4 linked regions of the Homo sapiens genome follow. The protein of the gene in region 3 purifies or fractionates together with the protein of the main gene of each other region. This does not show direct contact. Each region holds a gene or a part of one and is shown on either strand. Other genes may lie near its edges.

Region 1 (3,500 bases), on a different chromosome or scaffold from region 3:
GAATTACATTGGAAAATTTTGAATGTTACACCAAAGTGGCATAAACTACTTGGTCATGAAGTATAATTGAGCTATAATTTTCTTCTAGTGTGCTTCACAAATTTTGATATCAGCATGATGCTGGCTGGAGTCATAAAATGAGTTGGGAGTGATATCCCCTCTTCTATTTTCTGAAAGAGTTTGAGTATTATTAGTATAATTTCCTTCTTAAATGATTGATAGCATTTACCAGCGAAGCCAGGTGAATCTGAAATTTTTGTGCGAGAGAAGACTTTATTAAAAACAGTATTTCTTTAATGGTTACTTGGATTTTCCGTTTGTTCTTTTGTCTGTTTTGGTAAGTGGTACTTTTCAAGAAGTTTGTCCTTTTTATCTTGGTTGTCAACTTTATTGGCATTTTTTTTTTTTTACAATATCCTTTTAATACCTTATTATGTCTGTAGGATCTGTAGTGATCTCTCCTCTTTCATTCTTGATATTGGTAATTTGTCTTGTTTTCTTTCTGTTGTCTTGATCAACCTTGCTACAGATTGATCATTTTATTAATCTTTTCCAAAAACCAACTTTTGGCTATGTTGATTTTTCTCTATTGTCTGTCCATTTTCTATTTCATTGCTTTCTGCTCTTATTTTTGATCACTTTCTTTCTTCTAGTTATTTTAATTTTAATTCTTTTCTAGTTTACTTTATTTTTTTCTAGCTTTCTAAAATGTCTTGTTTTTAATTCTTCTTTTAGCTTCTTAAGTTGGAAACTTATATCATTTATTTCACATATCTCTTTTTCTAATGTAGGCATTTAATGCTGCAAATTTCCTTTAGCACTGTTTTAACTGCATCCCATGATTCTTGTATGTGGTATTTTTATTATTTTCAAATTCAGCATATTGTCTCATTTCCTTTGTAATTTCTTTTTTGACCATGAATTATTTAGAATTATGTTGCTTAATTTCCAAAGTATTGGGATTTTTCTAGCTATCTTATTGTTATTGCTTTCAAATTAAATTTTGTTGTAGTCAGAGATTTATTTTGTGGCTCTGCATATGGTCTATCTCAGTAAACGTTCTATGTGCTTTCTACATTGAAAAGAGTGTATATTGTTCAGTTGTAGATATAGTTTCTATAAATATCAATTAAGTCAGGCAGGTTGATAGTATCATTCAAATTTTCTACATCCTTACTGACGTTTTGTTTACTTTCTCTGTCAATTACTGAGAGTGTTAATGTCTCAAACTATGATTGTTGATTTATCCTTTGCTCCCTATAGTTCTGTCAACATTTGCTATATGCATTTTGACACTTGTTTTTAGCTCTGTTATATACATTTTTAGGATTGTTATGTCTTCTTGATGAACTGACCACTTTACCATTGTGAAATATCTCCCTTTATTTCCAGCAATGTATTTGTCTTGAAGTCTACTTTTTCTGATGTTAATATAGCTACATCACCCTTCCTATGCTTGCTGTTTTGCATGGTGTGGTGGGCAGCCTCTAAGATGGCCCCCAATAATCCTTGTGTCAGTATTTTCACCTTTGTGTAATCCCCTTCCCTAGAATATCCACTGGATTTAGTGATTCAGTACTGACAAGTTTGGTAGAATGCAGCATAGTGATGGGATATCAATTGTGATATTAAATTAAAAGGACTACAGCACCACTACACACCTATTAGATCTAGGCCAGAATCTGGAAGACTGACAACACCAAATGCTGATGAGGCTGTGGGGAAAGAGGAACTCTTATTTATTGTTCGTGGGAATTAAAAATGGTGTAGCCATTTTGGAAGACAATTCGACTATTCCTTGCAAAACTATTCAATCTAGCAGTTGCACTCCTTGGTATGTAACCCAGAAAGCTGCATGTATTACACTCCTCAGTATGTAACCCAAAAAGCTGTGGTATGTCTACACAAAAAGCTGCACACAGATGTTTATAGTAGCTATATTCATAATTGCCAAAAATTGGAAGCAACCAAGATGTCTTTCAGTAAGCGAATGAATAAATAAACTGTGGTACATTTAGACAATGGAATAATATCCAGTGCTAAAAAGAAATGAGCTATCAAGCCACGAAAAGACATGGAGGAAATGTAAATACAATTACTAATTGAAAGAAGCCAATCTTAAAAGGCTACATGTATGATTCCAACTATATGACATTCTGGAAAATGCAAAACTAGGGAAGAAGTAAAGAAGATAAGTGGTTGCTAGGGGTCGGGGAGGGAGAGATAAATAGGTGGAGTATAGAGGATTTTTTAGAGCAGTGAGACTACTCTGTACAGTACTATAATGGTGGACACATGTCATTATATATTTGTCCAAATCCATGGAATGTACAATACCAAGAGTGAATCTTAACGTAGATTACAGACTTTGGGTGATAATGGTATGCCAATGTAGGCCTTCTGCTTGATTTTGCGGTGAACCTAATATTGCTGTAAAAAACAAAATCAATTTTTAAAAAATGACAGCTTTTTATTGGGTATTCTGTCTCTATCTCACTCTCTTGTCCTGGGGAGTGAGCTTGGAACCAAATTTCCCCCAGTTGAACCAGAAAAAACAGAGAAATAAGTGTTTGTCATTTTTAGCTGCTAAATTTTGGGGATAATTTATCCTGCAGTTACATATAACTAATATACATGATATATCTACATATCTTTTTCTACCCTTCTGTTTTCAGATTATGTTTTCTCTTTTTAATCCAGACTGACAATTTCTGCCTCTAACTGGATTGTTTAGTCCATTTACATTTAATGTAATTACTAATATTACAGGGTTGAATTTAAATCTACCATCTTGGTATATGATTTCTATCTGTCCCATCTGATTGTTGTTCACCTGTGTCTTTCTTCCTGTTTTCCCTTGGTGAATGCAGTAATTTTTAGTATTCCATTTAGTATAAGTGTACATATTTTTAGTATTTATTTTTTATCTCCCCTGTTAACCTCTTCTGTGTCTTGTGTGAGTTTGTGTGGTTTTTCTAGGAATTGCAATATGCATCCTTGACATATCTATTGTCTCATGAAGGATGTAAGATATTCCAAAAGTGTAATTTCCTTAACCGACTTTCCTGGCCCTTATGTTCTTGTCATGTATTTTATTTCTATGTATAACACTATAATACATATATTGTTATTAGTTTTGCTTTAGTTAGTAGTGATTTTATTTATTTTTATTGTCTTATTTTTAATTTTGATTTTTAAAATAAAATTTACCATCTTTACTATGTTTAAGTGTTAGTTGAATAGTGTTAAGTATAGTCACATAAGTCAGTATACAGTTTTAAACAATGTATATAACAATATATATTAAACATAGGAATTTTGGACTGAATGTTTTTATCCCTCCCTCCCAATTTCTGTGTTGAAATCCTAACCCCCTTATGATGGTATTAAGAGGTCGGGGCTTTGAAAGGTCATTAGGTCATGGAGGTGGAGACTTCATGAATGGGATTAGTGCCCTTATAAAAGGAACCCCATAGAGCTCTCTAGCTCTCCTTCTGCCA
Region 2 (3,500 bases), on a different chromosome or scaffold from region 3:
GGCTGGTCTTGAACTCCTGGGCTCAAGCAATGTTCCCGCCTTGGCCTCCCAAAGTGCTGGAATTAGAAGCGTGAGCAACCGTACCTGGTCAACAGTCTCTAAAAATTTTTTTTTATGACAAGGTGTCACTATGCTGCCCATGCTGGTCTCCATCTCCTGGCCTCAAGGGATCTTGCCGCCTCAGCCTTCCAAGTAGCTGGATTACAGGCTCCAGCCACTGTGCCCAGCCAGTTTAACTCATTCTTTTTTATATATTTTTTACTTTTATCTTAATTTATTTATTTTTCTGAGACAGGGTCTTACTCTGTCACCCAGGCTGGAGTGCAGTGGCAAGATCTCAGCTCACTGCAACCTCTGCTTCCTGGGTTCAAGCGATTCTCCTGCCTCAGGCTCCCGAATAGCTGGGATTACAGGTGCCCGCTACCACACCCAGCTAATTTTTGTATTTTTGTAGAGACAGGGTTTCACCATGTTGGCCAGGATGGTCTTGATCTCTTGACCTCGTGACCTGCCCGCCTCAGCCTCCCAAAGTGCTGGGATTACAGGCTCGAACCACCGTGCCTGGCCAACTCATTCTTGTTAACAGCAAAATATCCTGTAGTGTGGATGTACCCATAATTTCTTAAAATGTTCCCCATAGACAATCAGGTTATATCTAATTTTTGCCAGTGAAAAGCATGGTGTAATACACATCTTTGCTCTTATAGCCTGAAGCTTTTAGTCTGTAGAACAGATTCCCCCAAATTGGAGAGCGAGATAAAAGATTTATGTGTCTTTAAAGTTTCAAGAGATTCTGCCTCATTACTTTCCCTAAAGGTTGAGGCAGTTCTTATCCCCACCAGTAAGGTGCCAATTTTTCTGTTGGTACAATCTTAATAACCCTGGGTGTTATTTGTTTTACATTTTGTGGGTAAATGTAAACTCACGGTAAATGTAAACACAGTACCCATGTAAACGAATGGGTAAATGTCTCATTTTAATTTTGCTTTTCCTGACAGGTCACGCAGAGCATCTTTTTTTTTTTTTGAGACGGAGTCTCCCATTGTCACCCAGGCTGGAGTGCAATGGTGCAATCTTGGCTCACTGCAACCTCCCCCTCCCGAGTTCAAGTGATTCTCCTGCCTCAGCCTCCCAAGTAGCTGGGATTACAGGTGCCTGCCACCACACCCAGCTAATTTTTGTATTTTTAGTAGAGACAGGGTTTCACCATGTTGGCCAGGCTGGTCTCAAACTCCTGACCTCAGGTGATCTGCCCACCTTGGCCTCCCAAAGTGCTGGGATTACAGTTATGAGCCACAGAGCCCAGTTGTCAACATTATTTATTAAATCAGCCACTGATTTAAATGCTTCCTTTAATCTTCAGTGCTTTTAAGGGGAAAATACATTTCTGGCTACAGGAGATGGAATGCAATAACCTAATGTCAAACAAAGCCGCCCCCTCCTTTACAGACTGCAACTCCCCTGTAGCTGAAGGTTTGCTGGTTGGTAATGGGTTTTCCGTGTGTGCTTTGTGTGTGTCTCTGTAGGCAGAAGAGCACTGATCGTACTGGCTCACTCAGAGAGGACGTCCTTCAACTATGCCATGAAGGAGGCTGCTGCAGCGGCTTTGAAGAAGAAAGGATGGGAGGTGGTGGAGTCGGACCTCTATGCCATGAACTTCAATCCCATCATTTCCAGAAAGGACATCACAGGTAGGAGGAGTTCCTCCTCCCCTCTTTAATTAGTTCTTTGCGGATCTCCTTGCCTGTGGGTCCTCTGGCCCAGCTTTGGCCCCTCTGGCCCCAGCCTCTCTTTTTCTTCTCTGCAGGTAAACTGAAGGACCCTGCGAACTTTCAGTATCCTGCCGAGTCTGTTCTGGCTTATAAAGAAGGCCATCTGAGCCCAGATATTGTGGCTGAACAAAAGAAGCTGGAAGCCGCAGACCTTGTGATATTCCAGGTATGGGGGGACATCGGAAGGGGTGTCAGGGACATTTGCGTGCTTATTGTCCTAGACATGTACCTAATTAGCTATGAGATCTTAAACAGTTACCCACTTTACTGCATTCTCTGCAAATAAGGGTGATTACTTTAAAGGTGCAGTATTACATGGATTTCACAGATATTGGGAATCTGGCTGTATTACTGTTGCATGTGTAAATGCAACTGCAAGGCCAGGCACGGTGGCTCACGCCTGTAATCCCAGCACTTTGGGAGGCCAAGGCAGGTGAATCACAAGGTCAAGAGACCAAGACCATCCTGACCAACATGGTGAAACCCTGTCTTTACTAAAAGTACAAAAATTAGCTGGGCGTGGTGGCATGTGCCTGTAGTCCCAGCTACTCTGGAGGCTGAGGCAGGAGAATCACTTGAACCCGGGAGGTGGAGGTTGAAGTGAACCAAGATTGCGCCACTGCACCCCATCCTGGTGACATGGCGACAGAGCGAGATTCTGTCTCAAAAAAAAAAAAAAAAGAAAGAAAGAAATGCAGCTGCAGAGATGATGTACAGTCCTTGAGCTTGCTTTCTTCCAGGTACTTAGTCTCCCCTTCAGTTAGCGATTCCTTCAGTTAGCGATTCCTTCAGTTAGCGAATCCTGCGGTTAGCGATTCCTGTTGGACTCTCTCAAAATTTGCAGTTCTCCTCCTTTCTCCATAAGAATCCCAAATACTTTGTAGAATAATCCATGAGACATTGACTTCTCTGCCATTGTAGCCTGCCAGCTGAAGGGGGCTTTGAAACCCTGCTGAATGTGTTCCTGCAGCAAACCACGGCCTTTCTTCTTCGGGAAGCTGCCTTACCGTTTAGCAGACAATGCTGGGATTGTGCGTGCATCTCGTCAGTGATCTTTCCTATAAATGTGACTGTACTCAATGACTTTGCTTTTACAATTCCAGCCAGTCTTTTGATATTGAACATAGAATGTATATGATCCTGGAAACCACGAGGAGGGTGGTACAGGCTGTGTTTTTTTTTTCTCTCTCTCTCTCTTTTTTTTTTTTAGTTATTCAATCAGCTACAAAACATCCAATCCTTGAAGTCCTTTATTTTACCCACAGGCCTGTTGCTAAGAATCAAAGCCACATGCCACTAGCCAGTACCCCAAAGGACGGCTTTAAAAAAAAATTAAATTGGAGACAAGGTCTCACGGTCACCCAGGATGGAGTGCAGTGGCATGATCTCTGCTCACTGCTGCCTCAACCTCCTGGGCTCAAATGATCCTCCCACCTCAGTCTCCCGAATAGCTGGGACTATCAGTGCACACCACCATGCCCTGCTAATTTTTTAATTTTTTTGTACAAATAGGGTCTCACCATGTTGCCCAGGCTGGTCTCAAACTCTTGGGCTCAAGTGATCTGCCTGCCTGGACCTCCCAAAAGGCTGGGATTATAGGCATGTGCCTTTCATATCTTTAAATCATGAATCAAGGATAAGAAAACCTCCTGGTATAGTCCTTACTCTGCTTTTATTAGGATAAGAGGTCAGACAAGACTTTCTCATGGGAAGTCCCTGATGAACCTT
Region 3 (4,120 bases):
GTCCTTTCTATCTCTGTGCCTCTCAGTTCTCAGATCTTAATTTAATTTAATTTTGTATATATTTTTGAGTTGGAGTCTCACTCTGGCGCACAGGTTGGAGTGCAGTGGCACCATCTCGGCTCACTGCAACCTCTGCCTCCTGGGTTCAAGCAATTCTGCTGCCTCCGCCTCCCAAGTAGCTGGGATTACAGGCGTACACCACTATGCCTGGCTAATTTTTGTATTTTTAGTAGAGACGGGATTTTGCCATGTTGGCTAGGCTGGTCTTGAACTTCTGACCTCAAGCGATCCACCTGCCTCAGCCTCCCAAAGTGTTGGGATTACAGGTGTGAGCCACCGTGCCCTGCCTTCCCAGACCTTAATTTTTACTGTCTGCTGAGTATGTGCTTCTGAGTGACTTTCTGACATTTCGAAGTCATATATACCAAACTAAATTATCTGTTATCCTGAATCTGTGCATTTTTCCATATTTCCTGCATCTGTTAATGGCACCAGTAACCTCCTTTACTCCAAAGTTTGAGACCTAGATATTTGATTCATTTTACATCCACATTATAATGTCTTTCCTTTTCCATTCCTGCTGCCACACCTTACGTTTAGACTTTATCTTTTGCTTAGATTTTGTTTTGACTTCCTAAGCAGTCTCTTTACCTTCAGCCTCAAGTTCTGCCTACTTTTCTTTAGGCACAGCTCTACTTATTCATCACGGCAAATATTTGTAAACTCTGAAGTTGATGTTAGGAAACGTTGAATCCTGAAAGCCCATATCATTACTCCATCTGACATTAGCAATTAAGGATTATTAAGGATCATGACTTTTAATAGTACTAAAAAGGAAACAAACTACAGTTCTCTAATCAGCAAATGCTGAGCTTTTCTCAAATATTGCTTCCTAACTGTTTCACTTCCATGGACCCCTTTTATTATTTTCCTCTATCTCCTACCTCACTATGGACCCTGTGTTCTAAAATTAAACCTAGGAGCTGGGCATGGTGGCTCACACCTACATTCCAGCACTTTGGGAGGCCAAGGTGGGAGGTTTGCTTGAACCCAGAAGTTCGAGACCAGTCTGGGCAACAAAATGAGACCCTCGAATCTTTAAAAAAAACGAAACAAAAACTAGCTGGACATGGTGGCATAAGCCTGTGGTCCCAGCTACACAGGAGGCTGAGGCAGGAGGATTCCTTGGCTTCCCAAAGTGCTGGGATTACACGTGTGAGCCACCAAGCCTGGCCTTAATTAATGTTTGTTGCATAGAGTGGCACTGATAACTTTCATTTTTCTAGACCCTATATATATATTTTTTTGTTTGTTTGTTTTTGTTTTTGAGACAGAGTCTCGCTCTGTCGCCCAGGCTGGAGTGCAGTGGCACAGTCTCGGCTCACTGCAAGCTCCGCTTCCCGGGTTCATGCCATTCTCCTGCCTCAGCCTCTGAGTAGCTGGGACTACAGGCGCCTGCCATCACGCCCGGCCAATTTTTTGTATTTTTAATAGAGACGGGGTTTAGTAGAGACGTGTTAGCCGGGATGGTCTTGATCGCCTGACCTCGTGATCCACCCGCCTCAGCCTCCCAAAGTGCTGGATTACAGGGGTGAGCCACCGTGCCCGGCGACCCTATACTTTTAATAATGCAGCCTAAAATTGAGCTTTGCTACTATTTTCTTTTTTCATCATGATAATCTACTATTGAAAGAGTTTGGTTATTTTTGGATGATATTGCATGCCTTTTACTTATATTCGCAAATTTAATCCTTTAAGATTAAGGCTTTGGGCTATGAAGGAATGGAAAACAAAAGTCCCCTAATGCACTTAGTATGAATGCCTTAATAAGATCCTTTCCTGGGCAATATATACTAGTGCAGCGTGAGGGTGGTAGAGAGAGCCAGAGGAAAGCTTGCATGGATGGTTCTGGGTATCCAGGGACAAGCATGGAAGTGCTTGAAACTCAGGGAAAGTGGGAAGGGCCTTAGGAAAACAAGGGGCATTGAAGACTATGTTTCTTATTTTGGGTACAGGCCTAGACTGAATATTCAGCCTCAAATAAAACATGAGGCTGATGTGCTGCTTTTTTTTACCTGGAATATGTCTTTGCTTTACTTCCATCAATTAAAATCCTGGCCACATGGTGTGGCTCATGCCTGTAATCCCAGCACTTTGGGAGGCCAAGGTGGGAGGATTGCTTGAGGCCAGGAGTTCTAGACTGGCCTGGGCAACATAGTGAGACCCTAGCTCTACAAAAATAAACTTAGCCAGGCATGGCAGCAGGTTCCTGTTGTCCCAACCACTCTGGAAGCTGAGGCACTGGCACTACTACATTCCAGCCTGGGTAACAGCAAGACTCTGTCTCAAAAAAAGAAAACAAAATATCTTTCCTGTGTCCAAAGTGTTTACAGTTAGGTGGGGGAAAAAAAGTATCAAAATTTTAAAGAGCATTCTGGTCAGAATGGATCCCAGTAGAGCAGTGGTTAAGAGCATGGTCTCTGGCATCAGCTATCTGGTTTGACCCTTGATCCTTATTAGCTAGTGATCTCGGGAAGATTGGCTACTTGCCCCATACCTCTTTTCTCACCTGTAAAATGGGTATAGTAATAGTACGAACCTCATAAGGATGTTGAGAGGGAAACGCAGCAATTAAAAATTTAAAAAGGAAAGGAAAAGATATAGATATACTCAAGAACAAGATAAACATCTCCAGGGACCAAGAACAGAAAAGAAACATGCAGTTAGACTCTGGGTTCAGGAGCTAGTAGAAATAACATGTAGGGGACCTAGGGTCAGATGCTCTGTATGAAACTGAAGCTGGGCTGAGACTGGATGAAAGAGGGCTGAAAACATCTGCTCTTGGCTGTTGCTTTAAAAAGCTGTGGACCTGGAGTGAAGATGCAGAAGTGGCTGAGCTGCCAGATGGCTCAGAGTCAGGAACTGTGGTTTCCCCACTATCAGCTAGTACAAGAGCACCAAGCTTGGAGGTCGTGGACTCTGGAAGAGGGGTGGCCTATCACAGAACCCCTGGGAAAAGAGGGAATGTCTGAGCCTATAAACACACGAGGAAGACCATTACTTAGAAAATTAACACAGTTACCAAGAGATAAATTCACAAAAAATCTGATGGAAATATGGGTAATTTCAAAACAATTGTAAGTATTTTAAAGATCCTTAAAAAAGATAAAAGAAATAATGGTCATAAAAAAACATGAATCAAAAATAGGTAGATATGAAATAGATGGCTATATTAAAGAAAAAATGGAATTATTGAAATTAAAAAAAAAATAGGTCAGTTGAACTCTAGACCAGACAAATTTGAAGGGAAAATTAATGAATTGGAAGAAAGTACCCAGATGTATCACAGAGAAATAAATAGGAATTAACAAATATGAGCTGGGCGTGATGGCTCATGCCGGTAATTCCAGTACTTTGGGAGGCCAAGGCGGGCAGATCACCTGAGGTTGGGAATTTGAGACCAGCCTGACCAACATGGAGAAACTCCATCTTTACTAAAAAAAAAAAAAAAAAAATACAAAATTAGCTGGATGTGGTGGTCCATGCCTATAATCCCAGCTACTCAGGAGGCTGAGGCAGGAGAATCTCTTGAACCCGGGAAGTGGAGGTTGGGGTGAGCCGAGATCGTGCCATTGCACTCCAGCCTGGGCAACAGCGCAACTCCATAAATTGAGAGGCACCAACTTACATCTAACTGGGAGTTCCAAAAAGAGGAAATAATGTGAATGGTGGAGAAGCCAGGTTGGAAGAGCTGATGGCTGAGAATTTACCAAAATTTAAGAAAGACCAGTTCTCAGCTTGAAAGGGCATTATATGTATCTAGTAAGATGGAAACAAAAATATAAACTAAAACTTCAGAGATTTTCTTGCTAATTATATTAATGTATCTATTATAGAAAGACTGAAAATTTAGACACTCCAAATTTAATAGTGGGCATCTTTAGGTGGAAGAATTATGAGGTTTAAAAAAAAACTTGTATTTTCCAATGTTTCTACACTGAACATATTAGGAATCTTGCTTTTAAGTTGGAGAGACTTGAAGTACACTGAATATATAAGTGGCCAAGTGCTGTGTGGCTAAATATTATCTTTACAGAATGGACCTCTGGGATACCAAATA
Region 4 (3,500 bases), on a different chromosome or scaffold from region 3:
TAAGAACGGGGGCTTTGGAGCCAGACTAACATGGGTTCAAGTCCCAACTCTGCCCTAGGTGAGCTGTGTATCCCCCCTGAGATCACGCCACTACACTTCAGCTTGTGTGACAAAGTGAGATGGAGCAAGACTCCTTCTAAAAAAAAGAAGAAAAAGAAAGGGTGGGGAGCCCTGAAGCCATGAGGAAGGGTGCTGAGAATACTTGGGAGAACATTCCAGGCAGAGGGGCAGCGAGCTGGAGCAGGCAGGGAGTGGGCGGGGGCAGCACAGCCTGCAGGAGGGCCTCGGCTTTCTCTGCTGGCTGCTTGTGGGGCAGGATGGACCATGAGGGCCCCACTCTGCCCGGGCAGGGGGTGACCTGCAGAGGCCCCACGGTCCGTTTGACACACTGCTCCCATCTGAACATACCAAGCCCACTGCTCCGACATCCTCCCTCACTGCTAGAAGTTTTCCTGGACTCCTTGATCAGGGAAGTATAACTCAGTCTGTGTGTGAGGTTTGGGGTGATGGTCTGTGTACCCCGGGAAACTGTATGTCCACTTTGTGGGCTAGGGCAGGCCTTTTTCCTGGTTTCAGAATCACAGGTCCCCTGAATCAGTGGTTCCCACACCCGGTTGCCCATCAGAACTGCCTGGGACGCTAAAAAGCACACCCATGCCTGCCCCCACCCTGTCCTTCCACACCCATGAGCCAGAATCCTGGGGCAGGGAATCAGAGCTAGTCACTTTGCTACTAACTCAGATGCAGCTGGTCTGTGCTGCTGGGGACCCGGGAGAAAGCAGCTGCCCTCCTGGTAAGAGGGTCAGAGTGGCCCCCAGCCATCTTTCCCTCGTGGCACCTCTAGGAGAGTAGTCCAGGCAGGATGAGCTCTTTCCCCAGAGGCCATGGCTCAGCGGATGGGGGACTCAGGTCAAGACCCTTGGTAGGGTGCGGGAGGTGGTTCAGACTCCTGAGGACACGGTCATTTGCCCACAAGGGAGCCACTGGGTCCCCACAGGGAGACGCTGCTTCCAAACTAATGCTAGTTTTTGCTCTGTGATTTCCAGAGAAGTACATGGAGTTTGACCTGAACAATGAAGGCGAGATTGGTGAGTGAAGCCTTGAGTGTGTTTAGGGAGGAGGGTGTTAAGTGGGTAGAGGGCTTGAGGGACCCTCTGTGCGGGTGAGGGGCATGGGGCAGTCCGGAAGGCTGGTGAATATGTTGCGCCGAGCCAGCCCCAGCCCCTTGCCTTCTGCCCTGGCACCACTGCCCTCAGACTCCTCCAGACCCTTTGATCCCCTACTGCTTCCCTCCCCACCCACACCTCAGCCTCCCACCCCAGGTGCTACGGGGACTCAGGACAGAGGGTGCCACACCTGCCCAGGGCTGGAGACACTCAGGGTGGACAGGCCCTGGGCCTCCTGGCTGGCATTTCAGTGGCCCTGAAGTCTGTCTTTCCATTGTATGTCATTCGGCAGTTGACAAGTTGCTTTTATATACGTTGATTCTCTCCTTATTGCATCCTGCTGTGCAGCTACTGGCACTTACGTTCTGGTAGGAGACCATACCTGGACCTCACCCGCAAAGAAGTGGTTAAGGCTGGTTTAATTATCCCCATTTTACAGATGAGGAAAGCAAGACTCAGAAAGGTGAAATGGGCCGGGCGCCATGGCTCAAGCCTGTAATCCCAGCACTTTGGGAGGCCAAGGCGTGGGGATCACCTGAGGTCAGGAGTTCAAGACCAGCCTGGCCAACATGACGAAATCCCATCTCTACTAAAAATACAAAAATTAGCTGGGTGTGGTGGCGGGTGCCTGTAATCCCAGCTACTCGGGAGGCTGAGGCAGGAGAACTGCTTGAACCCAGGAGGCGGAGGTTGCAGTGAGCCAAGATTGTGCCACTGCACTCCAGCCTGGGTGACAGAGCGAGATTCTGTCTCAAAAAAAAAAAAAAAAAAAAAAAAAGCAAAAAGAAAGGTGAAATGACTTGCTTACATGGAACACTGGCAGTGAACCAGGGCCCAGCCGTTGGTTTCTGAACAGTTTCCCCCTTTTCCATTTCATCCTGCGTCTCAGATTGATGCTGCTACCGGCATTTCTACTCCTCTTCCTCTGTCCTCTCTCTTTTCTTCTCCCTTTAGAATATTTTGATCATTTTTTTTTTTCTTTAGAAAGAAAATTTGGCCAGGCACAGTGTCTCACGCCTGTAATCCCAGCACTTTGGGAGGCCAAGGCGGGCGGATCACATGAGATCAGGAGTTCGAGACCAGCCTGGGCAACATGGTGAAACCCCATCTTTACTAAAAATGCAAAAATTAGCCGGGCATGGTGGCAGATGCCTGTAATCCCAGCTACTCGGGAGGCTGAGGCAGGAGAATTGCTTTAACCCAGGAGGTGGAGGTTGCAGTGAGCCCAGATTGCACCATTGCACTCCAGCCTAGGGGACAAGAGCAAGACTTCGTCTCAAAAAAAAAAAAAAAAAATTTGGCTTATCAAATAAACACATTTTCATCATTAAAAAAATTGGGGAAACACAGCAAGACAAAAAGACAAAAATGCATCACCCACAACCCCACCTCCCAGAAGTAACTGCTACAAACATTTCCGTTTCTAGCCTTCCACTCTTTATTCTAATCACAAAAGCTGTTTTATATCATTTTTGAGCCTCCTTGAAAAAAATAACTTTCTATTGGTCAGCCCGGCCAGAAAAAATAAGTGAAATAAAACAATGGTGAGTATTTTGATTTATTATTGATTTTTCTTTCTTTTTTTGAGACATAGTCTCATTCTGTTGCCCAGGCTGGAGTGCAGTGGCACAATCTTGGCTCACTGCATCCTCAGCCTCCCAGGTTCAAGCGGTTCTCCTGCCTCAGCCTCCCAAGTAGCTGAGATTACAGGCACGCACCACCACGCCCGGCTAATTTTCGTATTTTTAGTAGAGACGAGGTTTCACCATGTTGGCCAGGCTGGACTCAAACTCCTGGCCTCAAGTGATCCGCCTGCCTCGTCGTCCCAAAGTGCTGGGATTACAGGCATGAGCCATGGCGCCAGCTGATTTTTCTTTTGAAATATAGTTAATGGCTGCATTGTAGGAATGGATTCTAATTTGTTTAGCCGATGCCTTTGTGTGGACCATTTGGATGCCTTCCAATTTTAACTATTATTGATAATCCTGTAAAGAACCTCTTTGTACATGAGTGCTTGTTCACCTCCCTGGTTATTTCTGTAGAGGAAATCTCAGGAAGGGGACACTGGGTCAAAGGCTTTTGAAGCATCTTGCCGAACTGCCCGAGAAAGGTCCTGCCAACTTCAGAGTCTGGCAGTGCGTGTGCAGCCCTTTCCCCCTTTCCTGGAGAAGGCTGCCCAGCTCTCTCTGAATGCGTGGACATCCTGGCACCTTTGGGCCTGGCCCCAGTCCCGCCCGCCTTGCCAGGAGGAGCATTGGCTGCGCCACGGCCCATGGCCCCTACCCCAGCCCTCTCCTGCCATCCTTAGATGACCCATTGTTCACTGGAGAACAA

The links. Proteins that work in one complex are often made in the same cells at the same time.
Region 1: the proteins of ADK (region 3) and NNMT fractionate together in Homo sapiens (co-fractionation; one large-scale study listed by BioGRID). This does not show direct contact.
Region 2: the proteins of ADK (region 3) and NQO1 fractionate together in Homo sapiens (co-fractionation; one large-scale study listed by BioGRID). This does not show direct contact.
Region 4: the proteins of ADK (region 3) and AIF1L fractionate together in Homo sapiens (co-fractionation; one large-scale study listed by BioGRID). This does not show direct contact.

The regions. Positions count from the first base shown.
Region 1 is NC_000011.10:114,299,399-114,302,898, forward strand, and holds part of NNMT (nicotinamide N-methyltransferase), read left to right. Parts: intron 1-3,500. UniProt on the Homo sapiens protein: Catalyzes the N-methylation of nicotinamide using the universal methyl donor S-adenosyl-L-methionine to form N1-methylnicotinamide and S-adenosyl-L-homocysteine, a predominant nicotinamide/vitamin B3 clearance pathway.
Region 2 is NC_000016.10:69,716,561-69,720,060, reverse strand, and holds part of NQO1 (NAD(P)H dehydrogenase [quinone] 1), read left to right. Parts: intron 1-1,526; coding exon 1,527-1,691; intron 1,692-1,807; coding exon 1,808-1,938; intron 1,939-3,500. UniProt on the Homo sapiens protein: Flavin-containing quinone reductase that catalyzes two-electron reduction of quinones to hydroquinones using either NADH or NADPH as electron donors.
Region 3 is NC_000010.11:74,154,221-74,158,340, forward strand, and holds part of ADK (adenosine kinase), read left to right. Parts: intron 1-4,120. UniProt on the Homo sapiens protein: Catalyzes the phosphorylation of the purine nucleoside adenosine at the 5' position in an ATP-dependent manner. Serves as a potential regulator of concentrations of extracellular adenosine and intracellular adenine nucleotides.
Region 4 is NC_000009.12:131,113,531-131,117,030, forward strand, and holds part of AIF1L (allograft inflammatory factor 1-like), read left to right. Parts: intron 1-1,046; coding exon 1,047-1,088; intron 1,089-3,500. UniProt on the Homo sapiens protein: Actin-binding protein that promotes actin bundling. May neither bind calcium nor depend on calcium for function.